Linked DNA regions of Homo sapiens. The protein of the gene in region 2 interacts with the protein of the main gene of each other region in a biochemical or structural test. Each region holds a gene or a part of one and is shown on either strand. Other genes may lie near its edges. The genes, in order: COPA, COPZ1, COPB1 and TMED10.

What was found.
Region 1: the proteins of COPZ1 (region 2) and COPA form a complex in vitro, tested with the Homo sapiens proteins (one study listed by BioGRID).
Region 3: the proteins of COPZ1 (region 2) and COPB1 form a complex in vitro, tested with the Homo sapiens proteins (one study listed by BioGRID).
Region 4: the proteins of COPZ1 (region 2) and TMED10 form a complex in vitro, tested with the Homo sapiens proteins (2 studies listed by BioGRID, with this or other methods).

What each region holds. Positions count from the first base shown.
Region 1 is NC_000001.11:160,333,146-160,336,870, forward strand, and holds part of COPA (coatomer subunit alpha), read right to left. Parts: intron 2,178-3,725; coding exon 2,097-2,177; intron 535-2,096; coding exon 458-534; intron 1-457. UniProt on the Homo sapiens protein: The coatomer is a cytosolic protein complex that binds to dilysine motifs and reversibly associates with Golgi non-clathrin-coated vesicles, which further mediate biosynthetic protein transport from the ER, via the Golgi up to the trans Golgi network.
Region 2 is NC_000012.12:54,345,602-54,349,326, forward strand, and holds part of COPZ1 (coatomer subunit zeta-1), read left to right. Parts: intron 1-2,165; coding exon 2,166-2,243; intron 2,244-2,398; coding exon 2,399-2,450; intron 2,451-3,725. UniProt on the Homo sapiens protein: The coatomer is a cytosolic protein complex that binds to dilysine motifs and reversibly associates with Golgi non-clathrin-coated vesicles, which further mediate biosynthetic protein transport from the ER, via the Golgi up to the trans Golgi network.
Region 3 is NC_000011.10:14,496,825-14,500,982, forward strand, and holds the start of COPB1 (coatomer subunit beta), read right to left. Parts: upstream 2,988-4,158; 5' UTR 2,883-2,987; exon of another isoform or gene 2,785-2,882; intron 2,162-2,784; 5' UTR 2,105-2,161; coding exon 2,014-2,104; intron 1-2,013. UniProt on the Homo sapiens protein: The coatomer is a cytosolic protein complex that binds to dilysine motifs and reversibly associates with Golgi non-clathrin-coated vesicles, which further mediate biosynthetic protein transport from the ER, via the Golgi up to the trans Golgi network.
Region 4 is NC_000014.9:75,166,434-75,170,158, forward strand, and holds part of TMED10 (transmembrane emp24 domain-containing protein 10 precursor), read right to left. Parts: intron 1-3,725. UniProt on the Homo sapiens protein: Cargo receptor involved in protein vesicular trafficking and quality control in the endoplasmic reticulum (ER) and Golgi.

The DNA.
Region 1 (3,725 bases), on a different chromosome or scaffold from region 2:
ACTTCTAACCTCAGGTGATTTGCCTGCCTTGGCCTCCCAAAGTGCTGGGATTACAGGCATGAGCCATGGCGCCGGGCCAAGGCCATCACTTTAAATGGTCCCTAACTCTTCATGGAAAGTTCTATGTAAAGCTCCAGCTCCAAACACAAAATAAGACAAAGGTCTAGACCTTGACTCAGGTTTTATGGGAAAATAATTGAAAACCAGCTAAAAGTTCTTGTTCTAAAAGGCTATATGACTTCTCTTCCTGGTAAGAAATTATTGGAAGTCCAGATTCATATATGGGATTGCCTCTACATTTATTATTTTGCACTTAAAAGCATCCTACAAATACAATCAGTAATTAATCAGCCGACATAGTCCATTTGAGAAGGGAGAAGATTGTTCTAAGAGAAGCTCATTATGAAAAACTAGGAAAAATGAAGACTCTTTTCGAGCCCTCTGCCTCCTGCTTTACCAAACACAGGTTCTAGATTGCCAGTTCCACACTCGGATGGTCTGATCATCGGAGGCACTCAGAATCCAGGGATATTCCTGAAAGATATTCCAGACAAAGGCTTTAAACATTAAACAAATCTGTTCTATCAGGTTCTTGTAATCATTTTTCTCTAAAGAACTGCATTGCTTAACGGCTCAGCTACATTAGCAAAGGGGCTGCTGCTTTTGCTATCAGGTTAGCTGTCTCCTTTTCTCTACCACTCTAACAGCTTTTCTCAACTTCGGCACTTTCACCTATAAGACTTAAGAATGGAAGCCAGTTAGAGGCACAATACATTCTCAGAGGCAGATAGTGAAACATACATTTACATTTACTTCTATATGTGTGTGTGTGTGTGTGTGTATTTATATACAGTTAATCATGTAAATTAAGATCCTGTGAAAGACTCTTCTACCTTTAACTCTAGGATGGGAATATTATTTTATTGTCTGACTTCTTTCTGTCCAGTTTCAAAAAATTCCCAGGTCTCAGCAAGCAAAGCAGAAAGTAACATGTAAAGACAATTTAGCCTTTTTGGAGTCTATAAGATTGTTGAGAAAAGGAAGTATTTCTTATTTACACTTCCTTCTTACTACACTTGCTAAGCTTTGTGTTAAACACTGAAAATAGATGGTATTTCTATTTTCAATAGAGATAGTATCTCTACCTTCAGTATTTAGCACAAAGCTTAGCAAGTATAAGGCACACACATATTTAGTGAGCTGGTAAAATGAAAGAAAATAAGGTCTTTCGTAACTTTCCAGGTAGATGGCAACTTGTTCTAGGCAAGGGTCTTCAGGAAGTCCTTTATGGCAATGACAAATAATTCCTACTTAATAAGTTATCTTATTGAGTGGTTATCATTCTCAAATGTTTAAGCTGTAATTTTCTCATTCTCTCCTATCCTAGAATTTTTTAATTAAAAAAAGAAATAATATATACTCAACCAGTAAATTGTTTATTTCATCATATTCTTTCTAACTTAATTAAAGAGACTTAATTTACTGGCAATCAAAGAATAGTGTAAGTTAATGCTAATACACAGAACTATAAGGAGATCCTGTCAGGGTGCAACTGGATTCAGAGGTTGGGAGTCTGTAATCTGCACCTCACTATCTAAATCTACTATGTTACCTGGCAGATCAAAGAAAGTAGTAAGCCTGGCTAAGGGAACAGCCTCCACCAGACCCAAAAATCCTAGGATAGAGGGGTATGATTGTTAATACTTCGAAACGTTTGTTAGCTGATCAAAATGGCATCTTAGTCTGACCTTCTTCCAGACACACCTACTACTTACTAATAATACCCTACATGGGATTAGCTGGCAAACTTTTGTTTTTTGGTTCAGCAAATCTGAAATCAAATCCCTACTTTTCCCTACAGAGAAACAATGACTTCCCATAGAATCCACTGAATCCAATAAAATTAAATTCAGTATAATCCCAAGTGCTTCCTTTTGCAGAAAGAAAAAAAGCAGAAAGGACAATACCACACAGATTGTAGAAGAGCCACTCCAAAAACAACTCTATTATTAAAACATGGGTTCTCAAGGATCAAATAAAGATTACTATGGGGAAACTAAGAATGCTCCAAAACTAGCGCCACCATGACTACTTACATGATGAAAAAACGTGGTGCGAATATAATCTAAGTGCCCAAGCAATGTGAAAAGACAGCGCCGAAGCTTGTAATTCCAAACCTGCAAAGACAAATCAAACTAAGAAACAGAAATAGTTATTGAGCCTCTAAAAGGCTCAGAGAAATTGATATCTTTACAGAGATAGAAATATGTATATAAATATAGATTTATATACATTATTTGTATTTTGGCATTTCTAAATAGGTAGGAACCTTGGTAGAAAGCCTTGTTTAAGATTTGAGGGGAAAAGAACAAGAATGAAAATATAGGTCAGATAAACAACATGGGGTTGGGGTAGGATTAGGGAAAAGCTAAAGATAAAATTATTGAAGTTTTTCAGGCTGGGCGTGGTCACTCATGCCTGTAATCCCAGCACTTTGGGAGGTCGAGGCGGGTGGATCACAAGGTCAGGAGATCGAGACCATCCTGGCTAACATAGTGAAACCCTGTCTCTACTAAAAATACAAAAAATTAGCCAGGCGTGGTGGCATGTGCCTGTAGTCCCAGCTACTCGGGAGGCTGAGGCAGGAGAATCGCTTGAACTCAGGATACAAGAGGTTGCAGTGAGCCGAAATCATGCCATTGTACTCCAGCCTGGGTAACAGAGCGAGACTCAGTCTCAAAAAAAAAAAAAAAAAAAAAAAGTTTTTCTTTCTTTGGGAAGAAGCCATCTGCATTTAATAGCAGGAGATATTTATCCAGGGCTTGATTTGCAACTCTTTTTTCTACTGCAAAATTGTGCTCTTGGCTTGAATATAGACCCCTTAAGTGCTTTACCCATCACTTTTAAAAAGTATGACAGGCTGGGCACGATGGCTCATACCTGTAATCCCAGCACTTTGGGAGGTCAAGGCAGGGGGATCACCTGAGGTCAGGAGTTTGGGACCGGCCTGGCCAACATGGGGAAACCCTGTCTCTACAAAAATACAAAAAAAAATTAGCCGGATGTGATCCCAGCTACTTGGGAGGCTGCGGCAGCAGGATCACTTGAACCTGGGAGGCGGCGTTTGCAGTGAGTTGAGATCGCTCCACTGCACTCCAGCCTGGGCGACAGAGAGAGGCTCGGTCTCAAAAAAAAAAAAAAAAGTAGGACAGATAGATACCATGACTCCAAGGGAAACAATAATATAGGGCATCAGCTTCTTAGGCTCCTAACTTGATGGCAAACAACGCCCATACATGTGTGGTCTGTACTCACCTGTCAAGCAAACAGACCTTAACTTATTACATGGAAAATACTACATTGCTCAGTAAGCCTGAGCTAAGCAGAGAAACAATATCATATTCAGATGTGAAGTTGAGTCAACTACCAAAGTACTAGGCATCAATGAACACAACTGAAGACATGAAAACCAGGATCATAAATATAAAATAGCTTATCTTCCTCATTCAGAAAATCCCCTAAAATGTACAAAAATAAGAGACCAGATGCATTTTTCTTCTTATTTAATTTTTTTAAATTTCTTTTTAATATTTGTTTATAATCAATCTGGGCCAGCTTGTTACTATTTCTAATTTTTAACTTTTCTTCAGTAAATTATAAAAATTTCATTTCCTATAACAAGTCCAGACAATCCAAAAGTATGATCTTCCAAACAAGAATGCTGA
Region 2 (3,725 bases):
ATTCTTCAGGCCCAGGGATTGTAGGGGATTGGCAAAGGCTCCAGGGAGTTGATTTAGTTTTAGAAGTTGGGTTTTGCCGGGCTCAGTGGCTCACGTTCGTAATCCCAGTACTTTGGGAGGCCAAGGCGGGCGGATCATGAGGTCAGGAGATTGAGACCATCCTGGTTAACATGGGGAAACCCTGTCTCCACTAAAAATACAAAAAATTAGCCGGGCATGGTAGCGGGCGCCTGTAGTCCCAGGTGCTTGGGAGGCTGAGGCAGGCGAATGGCATGAACCTGGGAGGCGGAGCTTGCAGTGAGCCGAGATCGCGCCACTGCACTCCAGCCTTGGCGACAGAGTGAGACTCTGTCTCAAAAAAAAAAAAAAAAGTTGGGTTTATTAATTCACAGTAATTCATGCTACTGGGGAGGACTGGATGGAGAGTATGTCCCTCCCATAGAATAATTCTCTTACTAAGTAAGGGGACTGGGAGGGAGCCGAATCTTTACCTCTGTGTTTACTCTTGTAATCCCCTGTGGTCCTGTCAGATCTGAGCATCCTCAAGGTGCTTTCCTGGGCTTCATTCTTGACATTAGAAGTAGGGAAAGGCCAAGCATAAGGAAGTGTCCCAGATGAAATGTCATTCAGTACTTCAGGAATGGAAGCAACACTCCCAATTTTTTTTTCTTTTTTTTTTTTTTTGAGATGGAGTCTCACTCTGTCACCCAGGCTGGAGTGCAGTGGCGTGATCTCGGCTCACTGCAACCTCTGCCTCCCAGGTTCAAGCGATTCTCCTGCCTCAGCCTCCCGAGTAGAGTAGCTGCAATTATAGGCACGTGCCACCACGCCTGGCTAATTTTTGTATTTTTAGTGGAGACAGGGTTTTACCATGTTGGCCAGGCTGGTCTTGAACTCCTGACCTCAAATGATCCACCTACCTTGGCCTCCCAAAGTGCTGGGATTATAGGCATGAGCCACTTAGACCAGTTTTTTTTTGACTTCTAGTCCTTGTTTTTTCCCTTCTGTAGAACAGGAAGCACCCAGGCAGGAGGACTGCATGAGTCGAGTTCAAGACAAGCTTGGGCAACACAGTGAGACCCTGTCTCTGCAAAAAATAAAAAAATTAGCCAGGTGTGGTGGTGCATACCTGTAGTCTCAGCTACTTGGGAGGCTGAGGTAGGAAGATTGCTTGAGCCCAGGAGGTTGAGGCTGCAGTGAGCTGTGATCATGCTACTGCACTCCAGCCTAGGTGACATAGCAAGACCCTGTCTCAAAAAACAAAACAAAACAAAAAACAGGAAGCTTCTGCCATTTACCCTCTCCTCCCTTTCCACCTTCCCACTAGCCCTCTGTTCTCTGTTACCCGTGTAGATGGGTAATAGAAGAGATATAAGTTACTTTTCCTGAAAACATCCAGGGCTCTGAACTTCATTCCCCCAGCAGCTCCCAAGTGAACCCAGTACAGACAGCCATCCAGACCAGAACAGCAGGCACTCTCAGCCCTGCAAAATCAGCAGGGTGAATGGCTCAGATTTCCTCAGGAAGGGGATGATTTATTTCTTATCCAGGTGAATGAATAGTAATTCATTCGGGTAATCTAGTGAAAGACTCAAACTGACAGATGTGACAGGCCACATGCACCAACCAACGGATCTGAGGCTGGTGTATGCAGACCCTGCCCCCTCTTTGGGCTTCTTTTCAGGGCCTGAGCAGAGCTGGTAAGGGATAGGGAGAAGAGGGAACAGAGAATGTCTCAGGAGGTTTGTCAGAGCTTGAGTACAAATAAGGTTTGCATTGAACCCCTCTCACCTCCGGCCACCTCCAGACTGAGTCTTAGCTCTGTTTATATTGTTTTTTTCCACCCACTGATGTCAGTGTTTATGAGCAATGTTATGAGCAGCATCATGGCAGGTAGGAAAGAAATAATAGCGTGGATAATCAACCCCTGAATAGTCAGAAATTGACTGTGTTATTTGAATCTCTTTCCATACATTCCTTATTCAGCAAACGAGTAGAAAGGGGTTTTGAGTGAACTAGCTAAAAAGTTCTTCACCTTATTTACTTCTTTGTGTGGTTGGTGGAGATGTTTATTGGTCTAGTTTAGGTTCCTCAATTGAGACAAGGTCCTAGGATTTCTTTCACATACAAGTTGGTTATTCTCTTCTCTTCTCTTGGGGACTCAGGAAAAATGTAGAAAAGCGAGCACTGCTGGAGAACATGGAGGGGCTGTTCTTGGCTGTGGATGAAATTGTAGATGGAGGGTAAGTTCTCTGACCTGCCTTGATCTTGGGTGAGGTGGCGGGATAACTGCCCCTGTCCTAAGTCAAGCAGGCTCAGTGGCCAGAGGTCCTGTTCCCCGACAGTGAGTTGGGCCTTCGGGACAGAGTGAACAATGATCTCTTCTTTGTTTTTGCAGGGTGATCCTAGAGAGTGATCCCCAGCAGGTGGTACACCGGGTGGCATTAAGGGTAAGCAAGAATGTGTTTCTTTGCATCCCCGCATCTATTCACAAACACCCTCCAGAGCCAGACCTGCTGGATGTGTCCAGTAGTTGGGGCTCATAGGATACATACAACCTTCTCTTTTTCTTTCAAATACATTCAGCCTTTCTCTTCCCTTCTCTTCTTATTGTCCCAAAGAAAGAAGCAGAAATAACTTATTTCTACCCCTAATATGGTGCCTAACATCTCATACAGTCTTTGCACAAAGTGGACATTTAATACATACTTATTTAATAAATGATAAAATAAACTTTAATATTTATGGTTTTGAAATTATAAAGCAACTTGAAGTTGGCTTATTCCCTTCTTGGAGATGGATCCAGTCATCTGAGGCAGAGGAGTGTCTGTTTTGTCTTTTAAAGTGTTACATAGGACTGAGCGTGGTGGCTCACACCTGTAATCCCAGCACTTTGGGAAGCCGAGGCTGGCGGATCACAAGGTCAGGAGTTCGAGACCAGCCTGACCAACATGGTGAAACCCTGTCTCTACTAAAGACACAAAAATTAGCTGGGCATGGTGGTGCGTGCCTGTGATCCCAGCTACTCAGGAGGCTAAGGCAGGAGAATTGCTTGAGCCCGGGAGGTGGAGGTTGCAGTGAGCCGAGATTGCACCACTGCACTCCAGCCTGGGCGACAGAGTGAGACTCTGTCTCAAAAAAAATAAATAAATAAAATAATAATAATAAAGTGTTACATAACTGAGGATGGTACCTCTCCATTAGGAAGTACTTATTTGCCAGAACCTCAGTCCTCTTTGGTGCTGGTGATATCAGAAAGGGGCCTCTGAGTTAACCATAGAAGGCCCCAGGTCAGCTGAGGAGATAATGGTGGATGCAGAGAGAGCCCACCAACAAATTATACGGGTGCAAAGATGTCTGAGCAAAGCAAATCTCCCCATTCACAGAATGTCCTGGCTCTGACCTCCACAGAGTGAAGGCTGACAGTGCTTGGTAATGGGAAATCTCTCTTAACTGCTGTGGGCTCCATTTGCATAGTTTAATCTTCTCCTCTAACATATGTCTCTGTGTGGCAAGAGAGAGGGTCCCCCCCATCAACTCCCCGCTTTGTCTTCTTAGGCTGCTGTTGCAGCAGTTTATTTCTTCAAATTAACATGCTGTCGTTACCCATCAGGCTTTGCGGGATCCATTAAACCACTCCTGGCTCCCCCTCATCCTTTCCCTAGTGATACTGATATTCAGAAAAGGCCTTTTCTGACTAGGGAATCAGGTCCTCCACCCCCACG
Region 3 (4,158 bases), on a different chromosome or scaffold from region 2:
CAGCATGGTACTGGCATAAAAACAGACATAAAGACCCATGGAAAATAACAGAACCAAGAAACAAATCCATACACCTACAGTGAACTCATTTTGACAAAGGTGCCAAGAACATACATTGGAGAAAAGACAGTCCCTTCAATAAATGGTGCTTGGAAAACTATGTGCAGAAGAATGAAACTTGTCCCCCATCTCTCAACTTACACAAAAATAAAATCAAAATGGATTAAAGGCTTAAATCTAAGACTTTAAACTATGAAACTACTACAAGAAAATATTGGGAAAAATCTCCAGGACGCTGGTCTGGCCAAAAATTTCTTGAATAATACCCCACAGGCACAGGCAACCAAAGCAAAAACGGACAAATGGGATCACATCAAGTTAAAAAGCTTCCGCACAGCAAAGGAAACAATCGACATACGTGATGAGACAACCCACAGAATGGGAGAAAATATGTGCTAACTACCTATCTCACAAGGGATTAATAACCAGATATGTAAGGAGCTCAAACAACTCTACAGGAAAAAAAAAAACTCATAATCTGATTTAAAAATGGGCAAAAGATTTGAACAGACATTTCACAAAGACATACAATTGGCAAACAGGCATATGAAAAGGTGCTCAACATCACTGATCATCAGAGAAATGCATATCAAAACTACAATGAGATATCATCTCACCCCAGTTAAAATGGCTTTTATCCAAAAGACAAGCAAAAACAAATGCTGGAGAGGATGTGGAGAAAAGGGAACCCTCGTACACTGTTGGTGGGAATGTAAACTAGTATACCCACTATGGAGAACAGTTTGGAGGGTCCTCAAAAAACTAAAAACAGGGGTACCATACGATTCAGCAATCCGACTACTGGGTATATATCCAAAAGAAAGGAAATGAGTACATCAAAGAGATATCTGGACTCCTATGTTTGTTGCAGCACTGTTTACAACAGTCAAAACTTGAAAGCAACCTAAGTGTCCACCAACAGATAAATGTATAAAGAAAATGTGGTACATATACACAATGGAGTACTATTCAGCCATAAAAAAAGAATGAGATCTTGTCATTTGCAAAAATATGGATGGAACTGGAGGTCATTATGTTACATGAAATAAGTCAGGCATAGAAAGACAAACTTCACATGTTCTCACTTATTTGTGGAAGCTAAAAATCAAAACAAACTCACGGAGACAGAGTAAAAGGATGGTTATCAGAGGTGGGAAGGGTAGTGGTAGGGAAGTGGAGATGGTTAATGGGTACAGAAAAAATGAGTTAGACCCGATATTTGATAGCACACAGGGTAACTACAGTCAATAATAATTTAATTGGACATTTAAAAATAACTGAAAGTGTAACTGGATTGTCACACAGAAGACAAATGCTTGAAGGGATGGATACTCCATTTTTCCATGTGATAATTATGTATTGCATGCCTGTATCAAAGCATTTCATGTACCCCATAAATATATACATCTACTGTGTACCCCCAAAAATTAAACATTACAAAAAGTTCAGAAATATAGTTGTTTTCTTATTTGCAAAAATGCATAAAAAATGAAAAGGTAAACTTTTCTGGAAAATACATGTTTATTCCAGTGTTCACCTAATTGTTTGGGTGGGTAATCCAAAGAACAAAGTTCTTTTGGTTTTACAAGCTAAGTAACATGAAGTTAAGTGCACGATGGAATTAAGATATTCCAATACACATCCTCAACCTGTTGCCTAGAGAAAATAATCAGCCACATTAATATATTGAAGTCTACAAAAATTATGACATTTTGAGGAATATCTAAACTATTACAATTTCTTTAGGTTTACTAAGATAAACTGAGATGTTCTATTTCAAACAACCAATATTTAAAGAAGTTCGCATTTTTAATAAAAGGTCTATCGAAGAGATCCTAGAAAAACTTTAGACAAAAATTAAGCATTTCTAATTATAAAGGAATATGAAATATGAGTTTTTTATTTTTGTTTTTTCTTTTTTCATTTCATTCTCAAAATAATATCGAAGTTTACCTAGATCATTTTTTAAGCTAATTTCAGATGGTGGTTCTGAATCCATTGGCACGTTAATTAACGTGTAGCATACGTTCTCAGCCGCCGTCATGGTTTCTGGTTATATTATAACCAATCCTTGACACAAGATTTAAGGATGCCAGAAAATCTAGAAAAATAAACACAGACATATCATTACAAATTAAAAAAAAAAAACCCACAAACAAGTACCTATAGTGACCTTTTAAAGTATTAGAAAGGGCAGGTCAATCTATATCGTGTTCCCATAAAAATAAATTCTAGTAAAAACCACATTATCAGCTCTGGCATAAGGTATATTATCTATCACTCCCTCATCGCATCCCGGTCCAGTGTTTGAGAATGCTGTATAGCCGAATGAAGGCCCACAGAACAGTGACAGTCCCCCCAGCCACACCCCACAATGTTATGGACCGTATGGTTTTTACACAACACACAATCTGCATGCTCAAGTTAAGAGACCTTGTGCCTGAATACTCTGCCAAAACCCTAAAGCGCTTTATCGCGGTCCTTGGTGGGTTCCGACTCTATGTCCGCGGGTCCCTTAATCAACGCGCTGCACCCCCACCTCGCCCCACCCGCTTCCTCCTCCCCTTCCTCCAGCAAAGCAGCCCTAGGCCTGAAAGGGTACGCCTAGGGGTCTTGGGAGGGAAAAGACCCCCGGCCAATACAAAGGACGGGATGGAGCGTCCGACCCGGAGCTTCCTAGCCCTCCGCCCCCACCCCGACCCGCACCCCCACCCGTACCCCCACCCGGTCCCTTCTGCCAGGCCCAGACGCAAGCGGCCTAGTCGCTCCCCTTCCGCATCTTCCAGCTAGAAAGCCAGTTCTTCCGACTCTGCCCGACCCACCACGCCTCTGGGACTGGGGGCTTGTGGCCCACTACCAGGCTCCGAGGGGCAGTGGTTTGGTGCAGCCGCGGATCCGTCTACTGCGGCTCCGTCTACTCCGGCTATGAACCGCAGCAGCGGCGGCGGCGGCTCCAGAGTCCTTGGCTGACGTGGAAGGGGGTGGGGTAACGACCGAAGCCACAGCCACCTAGCACCTACGGCGACTCAGAGAGGACATGCTTTCTTTGTGCAGCGCTTGCGCGCTGCAAGTATATCCTATTTTCTTCCTCTTCTCTTGTCCAGGGTTTGATTAGGCCGCAGAGCAATGAAACCACGTATTTTCTAGTTTTCCCTGCAAGCCAAGCTCTGAGTTAAGCACTATGCTAATTTAAACGCTAACTGGAAATCGTTCCTTCTTCAGGAACAGTCAAGGGGAGAAAGTGCTTGGAGAGAGGGAAACTTTTACAGGGCTCTGTTCCCGTGAAAAAGAGCTCTGGACTAGAAAGTGGAAACCCAGTAATCCTTTTTCTTGTCCACACCCTAATAAACTGGGAAAGTAACTAATACTATTGGGAAGGTAATTCAGTTATTTTATTAATTATCACTAGATTAAAATCCATTTCAGTTCTTAACATCGCTAGTAGTTTGAATCTGCCTCTCTGCAGGTAGGGCTGGAGTTATTTGAAAATCCAAAGTCACATTGGTATAATTTCTGCTTTTTATTTAATAATGGCCTCTTTCCGTGATCCTTTCTGAGCACCCAGTAGATTAGAAAAAATTTTTATGCATAAAGGGAGACAGTCACTGTTTTAAAGGATTTTACGTATCTCCAAAGACCTGTTACAGCTGCAATCAGCCATAGTACTTTCGGTTTTGCCCATTTGAAGTTCCATAGCACGCCCCGCCCCTACACCTCCCTCTGCCCACAAAAGGGTTTTATGGCCAATTATTAATAACAAAATATCTTAAAGCTTAAGCAAAATACTGCGAATAAAAACAGATCTGACGGCAACTGCCCTAGTTAACAGGTTCATCTCAGGAAGATGGAACACCAATAGTACCTCATTTATGTAGGATCTAGCTCTTTTGAGCTTTCTCTTTTTAGAACCATCAAGCAATCTACAAATTCTTTGAGCACCCAAAATTGTATTCAAAGGCCATGTGTTGACAGCACTTTAAGAGTGCCTCTCTGATTCTGTGCATTCATTTTTTTTAATATTTAATCTTAATGGTAGAGTGACATGAATACAGAGATCCCATATACTCTTTACCTAGTTTCTCCCAATGGTAACATCTT
Region 4 (3,725 bases), on a different chromosome or scaffold from region 2:
AGTCACTGCACCCCTACTGGGTTACCTTTATATATTTGTTCCACTTTCCTAGAAACCAGACTCAGTCTTCAGAAGTCAGCATAAAGATATGGTGTAGCAATTTCAAACTGGAAGCAGCCCCCTTCTCTAGATCAGTTCAAAACAGGGAAGGCTGTAGACAACTGTTTACTGAATAAGAGAGATTTAAATGAAGCAATGTATCCTTTAACTTTTATGGAGAAGGACGCAAAGGTCAAGTTATAATTAAAAGCTAGGAACTTTGTATATAATACAAAAAGAAATTCGATTTATATTATTAAATGTCAATGTACCAATTAGCCTTCTGTACTGAACCATCTATTTATTGACCTGTTTCTAACCCAGTGAACAACAGTCACGTTAAATTCACGCTGAAAGGGCCATATTTCTCCCTACAGAAAAAGTCTGGCATAAGTAAGGGTTCATGGGATCGTTATTGATAAAAAGGATGGTTCATTTCGATGACTGAGCAACATGCATCCTATTCCTTTTTTTTTTTTTTTTTTTTGAGACGGAGTCTCACTCTGTCGCCCAGGCTGGAGTGCAGTGGCGTGATCTCGGCTCACTGCAACCTCCACTTCCCAGGTTCAAGCGATTCTCCTGCCTCAGCCTCCTGAGTAGCTGGGACCACAGGTGCACACTACCACGCCTGGCTAATTTTTGTATTTTCAGTAGAGACAGGGTTTCACCATGTTGGCCAGGATGGTCTCATTCTCCTGACCTCGTGATCCACCCACCTCAGCTTCCCAAAGTGCTGGGATTACAGGCGTGAGCCACCACGCCCAGCCGAAGCATCCTATTCTTTCTCCTTGTCAGCACAGAACAGACCTCAGTACAGATACCAGTAATAAAAAAGCTGAAATACAGTAATTCCAAACAAAATAATCTGAAAACTATAGCATATATACCATCTTTTCCTTCCTTCCTCCCTCCCCTGCCTCTTCGCCCCTCTGCCTCTCTCTCTTTTCTCCTCCTCGCCCCCACCCCCACCACTGTCCTTTTCTCCTTCCTCCTCCCTCTCCTCTCTGTCCTCATGCCTGGCCTATAGTATCTTCTCATACAGCTTTGGGTGAGGGAAAAAAGAAGTTATAAGCCAATAGTTTCCCAACTGCCAAGTTACTTCTTCATAATTTTTAGGCTTAAGTTGTGGTAGGCCTGTGATTCAAGGCTGAACTCTTTAAGGGATCTGTTTGGCTTTCTTATCTATAAGCTAGTTGGGAAGGACAGAAATCATAACTTGGTATAAGATCCAAATTTTCAGCCAGGTGCAGGGGTTCATGCCTGTAATCTCAGTGCTGTGGGAGGATCACTTGAGGCCAGGAGTTCGAGGTTGCAGCGAGCTATGATCATGCCACTGCACTCCAGCCAGAGCAAAATAATAATAAAAATATTACCCAAATTTCTGAGTCCCTACAACAGGCTTTTATTATGGACCTGAAGTAATGGAGGAAACTTCTATATTCACTGTAAATGACGAGTTGATACTTCCTGCTTCAATTATGTGCAGCAAAGTCTTTATACCTGACACTAGTTAGCCTGATTTAGCCTCACTTTATGAAATGAGTAGGGAAGTATGGAATAGACTCAGTTTGGAGATCTTAACACAAAATGCATCTCAATATAGGTCTGAAATAGAAATCTTTGCAGGAGAGGACCACCCATCATTTCAATCCATTTATCTCTCTCTGCTTCAGAAAGGCCTCCCCTGACCACTCAAACACCCTTTAACCCATCAGTCACCCCCTACTCCCTAGTGCCTGAACTTTCATTATAGTGCTTATCACTACCTGAAATTCTATTATTTTAACTTGTTTTTTGTCTTTGTTCCCCACAAGAGCTTGAGGACCTTGTCCCGTTTATCCCCATATTCTCAGCCAGGTCTGACACATACTAAATATTACATAAATATTTGTTGAATGAATGAAAGAATCACAAACTACTCATAATTCCTCTCATTAAAATACTCCATATCTACTTATTTCAATGACATATAGCATGAGGGGCTCTGAGAAGCAATTCAATTTTCATTCAATACAGAGGAAAGAAAAGAGTACTAACATCTATGGAGCACCATAATGGGCCCTGCACAATAAAAACCTCACCCATCTCAATCAGTCCTTCTAACAAGTTTATGAGCTCTACGATTCCCATATTACAGAAACAGGACCAGAGAAGAAGGGTTAAGTAATCCCTGCAAGACCCACATAACCTTTAAATGGTGGAGCTGCTGGGATCTGAACCAAATCTATCTTACTTCAGATCTAGTCTCTACCATACCACAAGGCTTCTCAAGAAGACTAAGATGTTTAACTCAGTTATACAACAATGTGTACGTTAAACTAAAGACACAAAGATGAGTAAGACATTAAAGAGTTCACAAAGTAAACACTACACTACATGAAAAGTGCCATGTAAAACAGGATGTAATGGTACTACAGTATCTTTTCATACAACTTTTGGTGAGGGGGAAAAAAGAAGTTATAAGCCAATGGGACACATAGGGGACACAGAAAGTCAAACATTGATCCAGGTAAAGAGAACATTATATTCAAAGAACTGTAAGGTGTTCAGTATAGCTAGAGTCAGAGTGGGAGGAAGCAAATAAAGAGAATGGAAGAGGGAAAGATCAGAGATGAGGCAAAGACAGTGCTTGCTCGTCTGTTCACTAATTCCTTAGGATAAGGTCCTACTATGTGCCAGGCCTTATTTTAGACAAGCATTGCAATGATGAATGAAACCTAGTCTCTGTTCAAGCAGCTTATAGTTTATCCCAGGAGATGGGCAAATACACAACTGCAACACAGAGTGGTATATGATAACATAGGTGCATTCACTGGATACTGAGATGTTCCTAGACAGAAAGAAGGTGAATCAGTCAGATTAACCAAGGCACTATATTCACAGAGACCCTTATAAGAAAGACTGCCTCAGGCTAGGCACAGTGGCTCACGCCTGTAATCCCAGCACTTTGGGAGACGGGCGGATCACCTGAGGTCAGGAGTTTGAGACCAACCTGGACAATATTGTGAAACCCCGTCTCTACTAAAAATACAAAAATTAGCCGGGAGTAGTGGTACGCGCCTATAATCCCAGCTACTTGGGAGGCTGAGGCAGGAGAATTGCTTGAACCTGGGAGGCAGAGGTTGCAGTGAGCCGAGATCATGCCATTGCACTCCAGCCTGGGCAAAAAGAGCGCAACTCCATCTCAAAAAAAAGACTGCCTCATTCAGCACAACCACCAAATGCTAAGCTCAGCTGGCCAGGTTCTGCACCAGTCTCCAGTTCTCCTCCTACCTCAAATCAAACCACAGCTGCCTAAAGCAGGGGTGGAAATATGACCAAAGACAAGACAATCCATTGGCTGAACTGAGACCTAGAATGTGGCCTACCATATGAAAAGGAGCTCTGGCACTTAGGAGTTGCACTCCAGAAGCTAAAATGATGCATAGGGAGAATCCTTGAAGCAGTCGTCAAAATATAAGAAAAAGTGGAACGGCCGGGCGTGGTGGCTCATGCCTGTAATCCCAGCACTTTGGGAGGCAGAGGCGGGCGGATCATGAGGTCAGGGGATTGAGACCATCCTGGCTAACACGGTGAAATACAAAAAATACAAAAAATACAAAAAATTAGCCGGGCGTGGTGGCGGGCGCCTGTAGTCCCAGCTACTTGGGAGGCTGAGGCAGGAGAATGGTGTGAACCCCGGGGAG